Linked DNA regions of Homo sapiens. The protein of the gene in region 2 purifies or fractionates together with the protein of the main gene of each other region. This does not show direct contact. Each region holds a gene or a part of one and is shown on either strand. Other genes may lie near its edges.

Evidence for each region. The genes of interacting proteins can lie anywhere in the genome.
Region 1: the proteins of NSRP1 (region 2) and CCNT2 purify together in Homo sapiens (affinity purification with mass spectrometry, with the first as the bait; one large-scale study listed by BioGRID). This does not show direct contact.
Region 3: the proteins of NSRP1 (region 2) and CPSF2 purify together in Homo sapiens (affinity purification with mass spectrometry, with the first as the bait; one large-scale study listed by BioGRID). This does not show direct contact.
Region 4: the proteins of NSRP1 (region 2) and PRP4K purify together in Homo sapiens (affinity purification with mass spectrometry, with the first as the bait; one large-scale study listed by BioGRID). This does not show direct contact.

What each region holds. Positions count from the first base shown.
Region 1 is NC_000002.12:134,956,822-134,959,842, forward strand, and holds the end of CCNT2 (cyclin-T2), read left to right. Parts: 3' UTR 1-2,521; downstream 2,522-3,021. UniProt on the Homo sapiens protein: Regulatory subunit of the cyclin-dependent kinase pair (CDK9/cyclin T) complex, also called positive transcription elongation factor B (P-TEFB), which is proposed to facilitate the transition from abortive to production elongation by phosphorylating the CTD (carboxy-terminal domain) of the large subunit of RNA polymerase II (RNAP II).
Region 2 is NC_000017.11:30,178,047-30,183,264, forward strand, and holds part of NSRP1 (nuclear speckle splicing regulatory protein 1), read left to right. Parts: intron 1-24; coding exon 25-153; intron 154-1,043; coding exon 1,044-1,251; intron 1,252-2,861; coding exon 2,862-2,970; intron 2,971-5,218. UniProt on the Homo sapiens protein: RNA-binding protein that mediates pre-mRNA alternative splicing regulation.
Region 3 is NC_000014.9:92,135,469-92,138,968, forward strand, and holds part of CPSF2 (cleavage and polyadenylation specificity factor subunit 2), read left to right. Parts: coding exon 1-28; intron 29-2,763; coding exon 2,764-2,879; intron 2,880-3,500. UniProt on the Homo sapiens protein: Component of the cleavage and polyadenylation specificity factor (CPSF) complex that play a key role in pre-mRNA 3'-end formation, recognizing the AAUAAA signal sequence and interacting with poly(A) polymerase and other factors to bring about cleavage and poly(A) addition.
Region 4 is NC_000006.12:4,059,300-4,062,391, reverse strand, and holds part of PRP4K (serine/threonine-protein kinase PRP4 homolog), read right to left. Parts: intron 1,980-3,092; coding exon 1,776-1,979; 3' UTR 1-1,775. UniProt on the Homo sapiens protein: Serine/threonine kinase involved in spliceosomal assembly as well as mitosis and signaling regulation. Connects chromatin mediated regulation of transcription and pre-mRNA splicing.

The DNA.
Region 1 (3,021 bases), on a different chromosome or scaffold from region 2:
AAAGGTAATTTTATTGAATCTTCATTGGTGCTAATGATGGACAGTTAAAAAGATAGCTAGTGTATATTGTTATGGGTCAGTACTTATTAGTACTTCCAAAATTGAATTTGAAATGCTATGTATTCACTTTTCACTCTGTAAATGTAATTCTTTACAATGACTTTATTTATTAAAGGGCAGCCAGTTGTCATTTTTACAGGATTGTGTGAGCTATTCAAACTCTTCAACCCCTGAACAGGGTATTAAGCTTCCAAAATAATGATGGGGATAAATATGGAAATCCTTTTTAAGTTGTATTTCCATTAAACAAAAACCCTTATAATTCATACTATCATGAATTTGCTTTATCCATCTCATTTGCATAACAGTTCATCTGTCTGGTCCCATTAGGCTCTACCAAAGAAAGACTCTGATGAGTGGACATTATTACTGTGACTCTTGTAAGTAGCCATAAATAAACCAAAATAGTATCAAATTTAGGTATGAAATTCCACATGTGCAAAGTACTGTTAAGGTGATAACATTTTTGATGAGATTTAAAAAAATATTTGAAATATTAAAAAGCATTATCTTTAAACATCCTATAAAAGAGTGAGTCATTTTTAAGTTGTGTTTTCCCTAGATCACTGATTTGTTACCTTTACACAGAAGCACATTGCAAAGAAAGGCTTTATTTCTACCTCTTCCATTCAGTTTTCCAATATTGAGCTGTGTCCCTCTGAATATTTGCCTTAGCTATTTCAAAATAGGTATTTTCAGAACCAAAGCAAAGGGTGGTTTGTTCACTGAAACATTCTTAGAGGCCTACTTAACGGGCGGCAGTATCCGGTAGTGGTAAAACCTCACAGTTTCCTAATTGCAGGTATGTAAATACCAAAAAAGTCCTGTTGTCAGCCCTAGGTTTATCTTTGAAAGCAGTTAAATGTGCACCTTGGTCTTCCTCCGTGTGTTCAGATTCCTTCTGGTTAAAGTTCTTATTCAGAGTCATCTAAAAGAAATTTCTAACATGATGTATGGTTTCTTGAATGTCATGAGTGGCTGCGTATATTGCTTTGTAGCAACAGATTGTATTAATAATTAATAGAATACCTAATTTTTTTGGCCTATCCTCTTTGAACTAGAAATGACTACTTGAGGGCTATTTCAGAGAACCAATATGAAATGTTTTTGTTAGTACAAAATACCATTGCCTTAAAAGGTTTCAAGCACATTTTCTTTTCTATTTGAGAACTTAAATTGCTGACTTGTATTCGTTAAGCAACCTTAGAAATAAACCACTGCTTATATCTGCATGAATATTATGCATTTCATGAGTACAGTTAGTTGATTAGATATTTCAGGGTTTTGCATTTTCTATAGACATGGGGACTTTTTTAACATGGTAACGTCTTAGGAAAACCATTCTCTCAAGGTATTACACCATTTCCAATTTTATCCAAATGAAAAGCATATCTGCTTAAATTTAGGATGTCTTTGCTGAGAATATTTGGAGGCTCTTGTTAGGAAGAATCATGGATTCAGTATTTCTAACCTGATTACTGCCTCAGAGGCTGTCTTGAAGGGAGACAGTAGGATTCACTGACTACCTTTACCCAGATGAGGGATCAACAAATCTCACACTTAAACTAAATGAGTTGACAGGACAATAGGTGCTAATCTCATGTGCCCTAAGATGGACTTATTTAGATAGGGATTTTTGCATTGGAAAAGCAGCACATTCTCTGACCTTGGGTACCAAGCTATGATACTAATTTGAGAATCACATTCTGATACGTTAATATCAGAAATCAGTGAGCAACCTAATTGCTGTAAGCTGACATACATGGAAGCCGAAATCAAAAGGTTGCTTTTGTTAGTTTCCCTGGAGCATCTATTTTTGTAATACATTTTGCCAGTGGGACTGAAAAGCTCAAAATGTTTTAGACCTAATATCATACATTAATTTTCTGCTCTGCAGTGTCAATTTGGGCACAGCCAGTTTTTACCTCTGTGGCACCTTCTTTATAATTTACTGTTACCTATTCTGCCTGACAGATTGATTAAGTAGGTTGATAAGATCCATCGAAGATTGAATGGCTAGGAGTAATTCTGTTCTCGTATAGGCAACTTAACTTCACTGTGGAATCCATTTATCTCAAAGTTTGAGGGCTGTCTACTTTATTTTCAAGTTTGGGGCGGAAACTCAAAATCCCGAGCATTGCCACTTTAGTAGTTTGTTTGATTTGCCTATTGTTTAATAATGAGTACATTCTTATTAAGTGATGAGTACATTCTTAATTTTAAGGTATGTTTTTTTCAAGCAGCTTCATTTTATTAGGAAAAATACATACTCATTTGTTGTAAACAGTGATTGTGGGGTTTCATTTTCTGAATGTACTCAAAACTCCCAACAACAATTGAACAGGATGTTTGCTAATAGAAAATCTAAAACAGGAATATGTGTATATGGCATGAATTAGTCATTGACTTTAAGCTTCTTATCCATACAAGGAACTAATAAAATGTTTATTGACAACATAAATCCAAGGCTCTAACATGTCTTAAGTTAATGTGAATCAGAAGTAACTTTGAGGTGGGGCGCAGTGGCTCATGCCTGTAATCCCAGCACTTTGGGAGGCCAAGGCAGGCGGATAACCTGAGGTCAGGAGTTCAACACAACCCTGGTCAACATGGTGAAACCCTGTCTCTACTAAAAATACAAAAATTAGCCGGGTGTGGTGGTGCATGCCTGTAATCCCAGCTACTCGGGAGGCTGAGGCAAGAGAATCGCTTGAACCCAGGAGGCAGAGGTTGCAGAGAGCCCGAGATCGCACCACTGCACTCCAGCCTGGGCGACAGAGCAAGATTCCTTAACAACAACAAAAACAGAAGTAACTTTCAGTCCCTGGAAAATGTGAGATCTCTAGTATAATTGACCCTTTATCCAAGTAATTTCATGTATCATTCAGGAGTGCAGGCTCTGGGATCAAATGGTCCATGCTCTAGTCTCAGCCCTACCATTTAATAACAGAATGGCATTGG
Region 2 (5,218 bases):
AAACATGTTTAATTTTTTTTTAAGACCAAACTGGAAATCCAGAAGGCCCTTGCAGAAGATGCTACTGTGTATGAATATGACAGTATTTATGATGAAATGCAGAAAAAAAAGGAGGAAAATAATCCCAAATTGCTTTTGGGGAAAGACAGAAAGGTTTGTAAGCTGAAATAACAAACTTTCTTTGACCTTGACCTACATTTTGTGTCTTAATCTTATTTTAACATGAGAATGATCTGAGAAAAAGCTTTTAGGTATGTGAGGTGTGAAGAGTCCCTAATTCCAGATATTACAAATTTGATTGTAGAACTCAAGCAGCACTACATATTATCCTAATAGGCCAGGTGAATTATCTAACAATTTTGCTTTTTGCTTTGAAACCTTTGCAAATAGTTTTTTGAAAACTTTTCCTTGGAATTCTAATGTACCAAATTTGTACTGTTCCTGCCCTGTGTATGTTTATTTGTGTTTTATTACCCTCTCATTTTTTCATTTCTTCCTAGCTGGTAACTGAATCATCTGCCTGCACCTATCATGATTTTATTTTCAGTGAGAAAAAAATTTGGGAGGGGTAAAAACTGAAATAAGTTCAGATTTTCTTTCTATCAACTCTTGTTCTTTCACAAGCACAGGCTGATTTTTAAGGGCATTTGCATCTGACAGTTATCTACTAGTAGAGTGATGGTATAAAATTATATTAAGCTACTATTTTAAATAGTCATATTTCTACTAAATGTGAAAAACTAGCAGGAACTTTTCTGATTTTTTTTTAATTAAGATAATACCAGAAAAAAGAAAAAAATTATATTTAGTTTGATGTTTTATTAAAGTTAAATCGCATTATAAACAATTTCTATCTCTGCTACACCTAAATTTTTATGGAAAACAGTTTCAATATTAATCTTGCTAGTAAGTTTATATTGAATGTAGGGAAGACAATCTTATTTGGGCCAATCATTTCTATCTTAATGAATTCATTATAAAAATTATAATATTAACAATTACTATTTTTTTACTCTTTTCCTAAATCTTTTTTATTTCCTTAGCCCAAGTATATTCACAACTTGCTAAAAGCAGTTGAGATCAGAAAAAAGGAACAGGAAAAAAGAATGGAAAAGAAAATACAGAGAGAACGAGAAATGGAAAAGGGGGAGTTTGATGATAAAGAAGCATTTGTGACATCTGCATATAAGAAAAAACTGCAAGAGAGAGCTGAAGAAGAAGAAAGAGAAAAGAGGGCTGCTGCACTGGAAGGTAAAATGAAAGAGTGGGAAAGGCACAAGGAAACAGTAGCAGAATCTCTCCCCTGTGGTTAGCTGTTTGCTCTGTCACTGAACTTTAGGGTTATGAGTTTGTGATCATAATTTATATATAGGAATTCAAGACACAAGGAATATGGTATTATATAGCAGTATAAAACAGAAAGGAAAGTTTAACTAAAAACACAGTTGAACTCTTCAGTAACTATTATTTCTACTAGACTTTTCTCTTAGTTCTCATTTTGTGGCTTTTGCCTTAGAACATGATCTGAAATGTAAAAACATTTATTACAAAGTATAACGCCATGGCATTTGTCAGAAACAATATAAATATAATTTTAAACCCTAGTTACATTTTTTTGGGATGAGAAAATAATAGAGTAACACCACTCAAGGAGGATCAATGAGGCAATTAGAAAAAGAATAACATTAATTGAAGAAAGAATAAAAATTGGATGAATTAAGAATATCTTAATGCTTTACCTTAGTGCTTTCTACTCATGATTATTTCTCAAGATCTAAGTAGAATATGTATTTATAAAATACTTTTTTTTTTGAGACTGGGTCTCTGTCACCCAGGCTGGAGTGCAGTGGCTCAACCATGGCTCACTGCAGCCCTGACCTCCCAGGCTCCAGTGATCCTCCCACCTCAGCCTCTTGAGTAGCTGGGACTACGGGAACATACCACCACGTCTGGTTACTTTTTGTATTTTTTGTAGAGACGGGGTCTCACTATGTTGCCGGGGCTGGTCTCGAACTCCTGGGCTCAAGCAATCTTCCTGCCTCAGCCTCCCAAAGTGTTGGCATTACAGGTGTGAGCCACCATGACCAGCCCTGTAAATACTTTAATTGACAAATGCTCATCAGCTTTTTGGACAGAGTCTCGCTGTGTCGCCCAGGCTGGAGTGCAGTCGTATGATCTTGGCTCACTGCAACCTCTGCCTCCCAAGTTCAAGTGATTCTTATGCCTCAGGCTCCCAAGTAGCTGGGATTACAGGCATGCACCACCACACCTGGATAATTTTTATATTTTTATAGAGACGGAGTTTTACCATGTTGGCCAGGTTGGTCTCGAACTCCTGAGCTCAGGTGATCCACCCACCTCAGCCTCCCAAAGTTGTAGGATTACAGGCGTGAGCCACTGCGCCCATCCTCTTCAGCTTTTAAGTAGAAGAAAACCAAGTCTATAACATTCTGTCTAAGCATGTACTATGTGTTTAGAGTGCCAGTCGGCAAACTTTCTGTAAAGGACCAGATAGTATTTTAGTATTCATATTTTAAGACTTTAAATTTATAAATTCATATTTTGAATGCCAGATCATATTCATACTTTAGGGCTTTTTGTGTATATGATCTCTGTCGCAGTTACTGAGCTCTGCCTTTGTAGTACAAAAGCAGTTGTGGACAATACATAAATGAACAGGGCTTTGTTTCAATAAAAATTTATTTATGAAAACAGGCAACAGGCCAGATTTGGCCTGCAGTTTGCCAACTCCTGATCCAGCGAGTAGTTTACACACTGTATGTTATATACTGTATGTCTGTAAAATGAAACTGCACTGTGCCTTATTGAATATATTCTAATTTTTGCTTTCCCTCTGTTAGCATGTTTGGATGTAACCAAGCAGAAAGATCTCAGTGGATTTTATAGGCACCTATTAAATCAAGCAGTTGGTGAAGAGGAAGTACCTAAATGCAGCTTTCGTGAAGCCAGGTGAGGAGACGTGTATGAAATATTTTGAAGAAAAATACTGTTAATAATCTGTGGTTGTGGGGTCATTTTAACCCTCTGAAAGATGGAAGATTACAACATTGCATATTGTGTTGTCAGCCAGCCTTACCTAACTGAATGAATGGCTAGAAATTTGCAGTTTCTTGATTTTAAAACCTACAGATTTAGTTTAAGATCATTTTTATTCTGCATTTCACAGAAATTGTTACATTAAAACAGTGATTGAGTTTAATATTATTGTAAAACCAAAGACAGACTTTTAATGTATAAAGTTTCTGAATTTTTAAGTGATTTATGGGTCTTAACAAGGGAGAGCAAAATCTTCAAGGGAAAGCAAAATCAAATTGTAGTTTTTTCTTTTTTCTTTTTTTTTTTTTTTTTTGAGGCAGAGTCTCACTCTGTCGCCTAGGGTGGATGGAGTACAGTGGTTCAATCATAGCTCACTGCAGCCTTTGCCTCATGGGCTCAAATGATCCTCCCAAGTAGCTGGGACTACAGGTGCAAGCCATCATGCCCAGCGAATTTTCTTTTTGTGTTTTTTGTTGTTGTTGTTGTGTGTGTGGTTTTTTTTTTTTGTTTTTTTTTTTTTTAGATGGAATGGAGTCTTGCTCTGTCACCCAGGCTGGAGTGCAATGGCGCGATCTCTGCTTACTGCAACCTCTGCCTCTCAAGTTCAAGGGATTCTCGTGCCTCAGCTTCCTGAGTAGCTGGGACTATAGGTGCATGCACTACGCCCGGCTAATCTTTGTATTTTTAGTAGAGATGGAGTTTCACCATGTTGGCCAGACTAGTCTCGAATTCCTGACCTCAGGTGATCCACCCGCCTCGGCCTCCCAAAGTACTGGGATTATATGCATGAGCCACCACGCCCAGCCTCTTTTTGTATTTTTGTTGTGGAGATGGGGCTTTATGTTGCCCAGGCTGGTCTTGAACTCCTGGGTTTGAGGGATCCCCCCTCTATCTCAGCCTCCCAAAGTGCTGGGATTACAGGTATGAGCCACTGCACCTGGCTGCTTTTTTTTTTTTTTTTTTTTTTTTAAATAAGAATGTGGGTATTCCTCATGATCCTTAAAATGATTGGTGCCTGGTACCTTAAAATGATTTTGCTGTCAGAATTAAGGAGAAAGTTGGAAAGAATTAGGTGTCTACAATATAAGTCTTATATACATGTTCAGATAGTGTATAAAAAGGAAAGTGGTTTGTTTTCATAAATAGAACCCAGCCTTCCTAAAATGTAAGACTTACATATCGGGGCTAGAACTGCACTGTTAGTATGTAGGCACTAGTCACGTGTAGCTACTTAAATTAATTTAAAGTAAATAAAGTAGGTTGGGCGCAGTGACTCACGCCTGTTATCCCAGCACTTTGGGAGGCTGAGGCAGGTGGATCATGAGATCAGGAGATGGAGACCATCCTGGCCAACATGGTGAAACCCTGTCTCTACTAAAAATACAAAAATTAGCTCGGCATTGTGGCACATGCCTGTAATCCCACCTCCTGGGGAGGTTGAGGCAGGAGAATTGCTTAAACTCGGGAGGCGGAGATTGCAGTGAGCTGAGATAGCGCCACTGCACTCCAACCTGGCGACAGAGCCAGACTCCATCTCAAAAAATAAAATGGCTGGGCACGGTGGCTCATGCCTATAATCCCAGCACTTTGGGAGGCCAAGGCGGGCGGATTGCGAGGTCAGGAGATTGAGACCATCCTGGCCAGCACGGTGAAATCCCGTCTCTACTAAAAATACAAAAAATTAGCCAGGCGTGGTGGCGGGCGCCTGTTGTCCCAGCTACTTGGGAGGCTGAGGCAGGAGAATGGCGTGAACACAGGAGGCGGAGGTTGCAGTGAGCTGAGATTGCGCCACTGCACTCCAGCTTGGGTGACAGTGCAAGACTCTGTCTCAAAAAATAATAATAATAAATAAATAATAAAATTAAGTAAATAAAATTTAAAGTTTTGATCACAGCGGCCACATTTCATATACTCAGTTGCCATATTTGGCTGGTGGTTGCCATACTGGGGACAGCTCACATATGAACATTACCATTTCTTGAGGCATTTCTATTAATGCTGGTCTAGAAGGTAAAGGATTAGAGGATTTTTGAATAAAGTTATAAGGTATTATAGGAATGGTGAGATGATTATGCCATAATTATGTAGCTGAAGGTAAAAGAGTCTGTCCTAAGCAAAAAAAAAAAAATTTTTTTTAACAGGAATGTTCTGGGTAGATCTG
Region 3 (3,500 bases), on a different chromosome or scaffold from region 2:
CAGTTGACTTCAACCACAAGAGGGAGATGTAGGTATATCAAGAGAAAAGCTAAAGGCAATGCAATTGGTATTATTTTATTCTTTGGAGAAAAAATAAGAAACACAGTTTTTGTTTTGGTTACCAGAAATTTAGAGCAACTTAAAACCGTCAAATAGGGAGTGTTTTCAAAATTAATTATTTGCATAGTAAGGGGGAAAGTATGGTATAAGACATAAGAGATTTTAAAAATTTATAGGTTAAGTATACACTCTACAAAACGGGTATCTCCCTGGAGATGTTGCAAAGGAGATGAATTTTTTACGTATCAAATTACATGTTCTTGACCTGCTATTTAACACAACTTTGTGGATGGGTTGTTCTTTTGTTTTGTAACGTGATATGGTTTGGCTCTGTGTCCCCACCCAAATCTCATCTTATAGCTCCCATAATTCCCACATGTTGTGGGTGGGACCCGGTGGGAGATGATTGAATTATGAGGTTGGGTCTTTCCCGTGCTGTTCTTGTGATAGTGAATGGGTTTCACGAGATCTGATAGTTTTAGAAACAGGAGTTGCCTTGCACATAATGTAATTACCATCTAATATAACTGCCCTGTATGTTTAAAGTTAGTCCCTTTGAAAGGGAACTCAATTCTAGTTATGATTTTACACACTTCATGTGGCACTCAGAGCATTACTATATAATATTTTGGTGTTTAGTCTCTTACAGGCTCGTTTTGTTTTATCTGTACATTAAGTTCATAGCTATTTTGTGTTACATTACAATAGTCTCAGGATCTTTATATTAAGAAATATTTAAGACAAATAGACTGAATTTTAGACACTTATAACCATAGATTAATGAGGAAAGGATGGCTATGTTGCAGGGCAAAAGAGTGAGGGTCGTGATCAACTCAGTATACCACTGGAGGCTATATGAGTAAACAGCAAACTGTTCGCATAAACGCAGAAAATTGGCAAACTGACAAACTGTGTCTGCCACCCAGAAGGAATGCTGAGGGCAGTCAGGCCTCAGGTGCAGGTGTTTCTTGTGATTAGACACATCTGAAGCCTGTTAGCAGTAATGTGAACCTGTGATCAATTAAGCAGCTGACCAATTGTTACCTCGTCCTCCCTGCTCTTTCTACCCAATAAATATGAAGGGCTGTAGAAGCTGAAGGCAGCTCCCTTTGCTCACTAGAAGCAGGGAGCTCTCTTCTTCTTCTCCTGACCCCTTCCTTTAAAATAGTTACTTTTGTTTTAAGTTTTCATTTCTGCATTCGTCCTCCTTCGTTCAGTCTCGTAGTAACCGTGGCAAACTGCAGCATGGCTATTTGAGTAAATGGTATTGAAGGATTCAACCATTTTGGAAAAAAATCAATTTGTGTCCTTTTAATTATATAACAAAAGAAATTTCAGATGGATTAGAACTAAATAGAAATGAAGCAATATTGGTGAGTCTGATCTCTGATTTGGAAAAGACTTTGTAAGCATAAAAATAATGAACCAAGTTACAAAGTAAAAGTTTGATAGATTTGATGACATACAGGTTCAAATGTCTGAAACAACAAATAAAAAAAAAAATCAAAGTAGGAAAATATTTGCAGCAAGTTGCCCAAAAACTTACAACATATATATAAGATCAAGTATTAATTTATTAATAAAAATATACCAGTTGCAAGATGGACAAAAGTTATAAAGTCAAAAGAGAAAATTTAAATGATCTTTTTTTGTTAGATACCATTAAAATTATTATTATTCTTATTTATATTTTTATGTATTTTTTTGAAACAGAGTCTCACTCTGTCACCGAGGCTGGAGGCACAATCACGGCTCACTGTAGTGTCGACCTCCCAGCTTCAAGCAATCTTCCCATTTTAGCCTCCCAAGTAGCTAGGACTACAGGTGCGCTCTAACATGCCTGGCTATTTTTGTAATTTTAGTAGAGATGAGGTTTTGCCATGCTGCCCAGGCTGGTCTTGAACTACTGGGCTCCAGTGATCTGCCCACCTCTGTCTCCCAAAGTGTTGGGATTACAGGCATGAGCCACTGCACTAGTCCAAAATTATTTTTAAATGGTGATTTTCTTCTGGGAAGTATGTAGAATTGGTCAGTCTTTTTGATTGAACTTTTCTGGATGAGGTTAAATCTTGCTGGAAAGCCTTTTAGCAGTACTATGTATTAACAGTAAATACATTTTTAGGAATGTGACCTAAAGAAACAATCAGAAATGCAATTGAAGCTTTTGTAAAAAATGTTCTTTGGAAGATTATAATGGCAAAAATAAGTGACCGAAATATCAGTAAAGGGAAAGGATCAAATACAGTGTAGACACAATAAAATGTTTTTATAACTGTTAAACATTTAGTTTAGAAAAAAATTTTTATGTCCTGGGTAAAAACCAGGATATAGAACTGAGCGTATAGGAATGTATATGGGATATCAGCTTTGTAAAATACATATGTATATCAGTACTTACCATAAGACAGGGCAAAAAGAAAAATAAAAAAAATACATATGTGCATAGAAAAACTTATATGGTTAGCAGGATGTACACCAAAATATTATGTCAGTTATCTCTGAGTAATGGTACTCTGGAAGATTTTTATTTTCTTCTTTATACTTTTTTGAAGTTACTGGATTTCTTATCAATGAGCATGTCTACTTTTATAGTTAGAGGAGGGAACACCTTATAAATGAAGCTGCTTATTTTTTAAGTAAGAGAAGCTATTATTGTTTACTTGAAATGATATAAAATATTCCTCTTCTTAAACTTTCTTATAGCCATTTAAATGGATGTTCCCTGGAAATGCTAAGCAGGCCTTCCCTACTTATCACAGATTCATTCAATGCTACATATGTACAGCCTAGAAGAAAACAGAGAGATGAGCAGCTTCTGAGTACGTATTCTTTCACGTCCTTATTATTATTATTATTTTGTAACTTTTTGTATATTTAGGGAATATAAGTACATAAAAGTACAGGTTTCTTTTTTTTTTTGAGACGGACTTTCGCTCTTTCACCCAGGCTGGAGTGAAGTGGCGCGATCTCGGCTCACTGTAACTTCCGCCTCCTGGGTTCAAGTGATTCTTGTGCCTCAGCCTCCCGAGTAGCTGGGATTACAGGTGTGCACCACCACGCCCAGCTAATTTTTGTATTTTTAGTGGAGACAGGGTTTCTCCATGTTGGCCAGGCTGGTCTTGAATTTCTGACCTCAGGTGATCCACCTGCCTTGGCCTCCCAAAGTGCTGGGATTACAGGCATGAGCCACCACGCCCGGCCACAAGTATAGGTTTCTTAATGCATACGTTGCACAGTGGTGAAGTTTGGCCTTTTACTGTATCCGTCTCCAGAATCGTGAATGTTGTACCCAATGTATAATGTCCTTTTCAAGGAGCTGTGGAAATGCATGGTAGTGGGAATGACTGTATTCTGTTTAGCACTTTTCTTGGTCATAAGAGATTGGTTAACTTTAGTATTTTTGAAAAAAATATTATGTGACCATCAGTTTTTGTATAAGA
Region 4 (3,092 bases), on a different chromosome or scaffold from region 2:
AAATTCCTTTGTGTTGCAAAACCAAGCTGATTTAAACGATTTTGTCTTAAATTGTTGCTAAATGTTTATCTACACATGCTGTCAGAAATAACCTTGTTAAGAAGGTGAAGCTGGTGTCTCAGCAAATCAGACCCCTTGGAGAAGGCGTCGAATGGCCTGTGCCCCGTTTTCCTTTTTCTCTTTCCGCACCATCAAAAGGAAAAGTGAGAAAATAGCAGAAACATTAGTTAAATCCTGAATTATACCCCATAACCTACAGGAATAATCTCACTACACTGAAAGCTGACAATATTTGTAGGATTTTTTGAAATAATTAGGATCCTAATTATTAATAAACTGGTAATTTTGGCTAGGTTTACATCTTTAACTAATAATACTTTCAATTAAAAACTTTCAGGAAAAAAACAAAAGGTTGCTTTTAACTATTTATGGTTTACCTGACTTACCAGCACTGAAGACAAAAACTTTTAAAAATGGCTACAAATGCCTTGTTCACAAAAGACTTTATTATCTAGTGATGCATACTGAGAACATACAGAAATCTGCATGGTCCACTTCACATGCAGTAGAACAATCTTCACTTTACAATAAGTGAGTGTCAACTGTTTTATGCAATAGACAACACTTTAAAGTCACATTCTTAAAGAAAAGCTTCATTTACAAAAGAAATAAAAGGTAAAGAAGCAATTACCGCTTTTAAAAAGCAGCTGCTTTGTTCAAGAGTGGAAGGTTTATGCCTGTATTGAAAGACAACATGATCACAAATAATGAAAACAATGAACAAATGAAAAACACTTTTACCATAAAGCAGTACACTTTCAAAATGACATACAAATAGTTAAAAATTTCATTACGTTGTCTAGCCTTTAAATATGAGGACTTTCAGAATTAGGCCTCAACATTTGTAATTAGTAAATGAAAACTACGCATCGTTTCTATGTCACTAGGAACTATATTTAACAAAATGTATATAAAGTCTATAGCAAGTTGATTTAAAAAAAGTAAAGTTAATAAGAAACAGTACACTGAAGGCGCTCTATCCATCAAGCGCGTTCTCTTCCAATTTTAAATGTGATGAACAAACAGAAATTGTAACTATGCCACAGTTGCAATGCCAAAAAATAAAACAAGATCAGTTATCACACATGCAGGGAATTCTGCCACAAAGCTAACATCCCTCATTTGTCAGTTGTTCCAATAAAATAACATCTTAAAACACCAGAGATGTTGATGGTTTAGCTTACCTTCAGTGTACTGAATGCTGCACACAACCTGCTTTAAAAGGAGACCATCCCTGCAGGCAGGCTCAAGAAGGAACAGACCCCTTTCGGCACTGACTACACCAAGGGCATGCTGCTGTGGCCTGCACACACACACCTAGGAAAACGTGAATATAAACAGCATTTATGCTGGCCATTTTATCTCAAGACCAAAATGAAGCCAAGTCTGCTAAGAACAAATCAACCACCCAATATTACTACTCATTTCATAACAGATGCTTTTGTCTTTATGTGAACTGCAACCATATACATTAGCACTGTAATTTTGTGCAGTCTTGGCAATTTAAAACAGTCTACAGTGAAATTTCACGTAAGACACAAAACAGATTAACTAACATCTCTAAAAGAAATATCACCCTTGGTGTTAATTCAAATATATCATGCTTCCTCAAATTTGCTGGAGAAATATTTATAAGTTTATATACATTAATAAACTGCTGTGAAATTTCTTCAGTCTTTGTATTTACTCAAACCCTTGGAGTTTCTTCATCTTGTTTAAATTTTTTCCTGGATGAAGGCGTGCTGTAGGGCCTGGTTGATGCTAATTCGTTTAGCTGGGTCCAACATCAGAATCTGGTCCAACAAGTCCTTTAGCTGGTGTACTTTCTTACGTTGGTCTTCAGGAAGTCTCTGGCACCCAATCAAGTCAGCCAACAGGTCCTTAGTTGGATTAATGGTGCTCATAACAGTAACTTTCTCCTAAAAATAATTTTTAAAATGCGTATCTCTAAATAAGTTACTAAGCATATACAACTTAAATCAGATTGTTTTGGGGTCTATCAAAAATATTAAAAACATGCATATACATACAAAATATATACACACAGTGCACATTTTGGGCAATGACAGACTGCATATATGACAGTGGTCCCTTAAGATTGGAATACCGTATTTTTGCTCTCCCTTTTCTATGTTTAGATACATACATACACTTACCACTTGCAAAAGTGCCTACAGTATTCAGTCCACCAACTTACAGTTCAGGCCTAGAAGCAAAAGGCCATACTACTTACCCTAGATGTGTGTGAGTGTATGCTGTGGTTATGTGACGCATGACTGTATCATCATCATCTATTCATTTAAAACTTTGCTGTGGTTTCCTCTATGCTGTACATCTTTTTAAAAGGTAACCAAAAAACTTAAATGAAAAAGTTGATGCCAACTCTGGGCTGGGCGCGGTGGCTCACACCTGTAATCCCAGCACTTTGGAAGCCCAAGGTAGGTGGATCACTTGAGCTCAGGAATTCGAGACCAGCCTGGGCAACACTGCAAAACCCATCTCTACTAAAAATACAAAAATTATCCAGGCGTGGTGGCACACAATTGTAATCCCAGCTACTCGGGAGGCTGAGGCATGAGAATTGCTTGAACCTGGGAGGCAGAGGTTGCTGTGAGCCAAGATCGTGCCATTGCACTTCACCCTGGGTGACAGGTGACAGAGCGAGACTCAGTCTCAAAAAAGAAAAAAAAAGTCAACTCCAAGTTAGCAATGAAAATTTACAATAAGATAAGCATGAGCTGTTTGCACTGTACTTTCCCTACCTTGAAGTGGTAAGTGACAGACATGTGAATAAGTTAATACCCTGAAGTATTATTAAGTGCTCTGACAAAGACAGGGACATATGCTATAATAATGGGACAAAAATAAGGAAATCATTACTTCAATCTGGGAGTTTTCAAAAGGCTCATACAGAATGTGTATTTCAGCTGAGGCTTGAAGATGATACATTTTTTAGGGGGTTGGGGGTGAGGCAGCACAGGAAATGACTAAGCTCAGGGAGGTCTGTTAGCAAAGGCACAAAGGTCTGAACC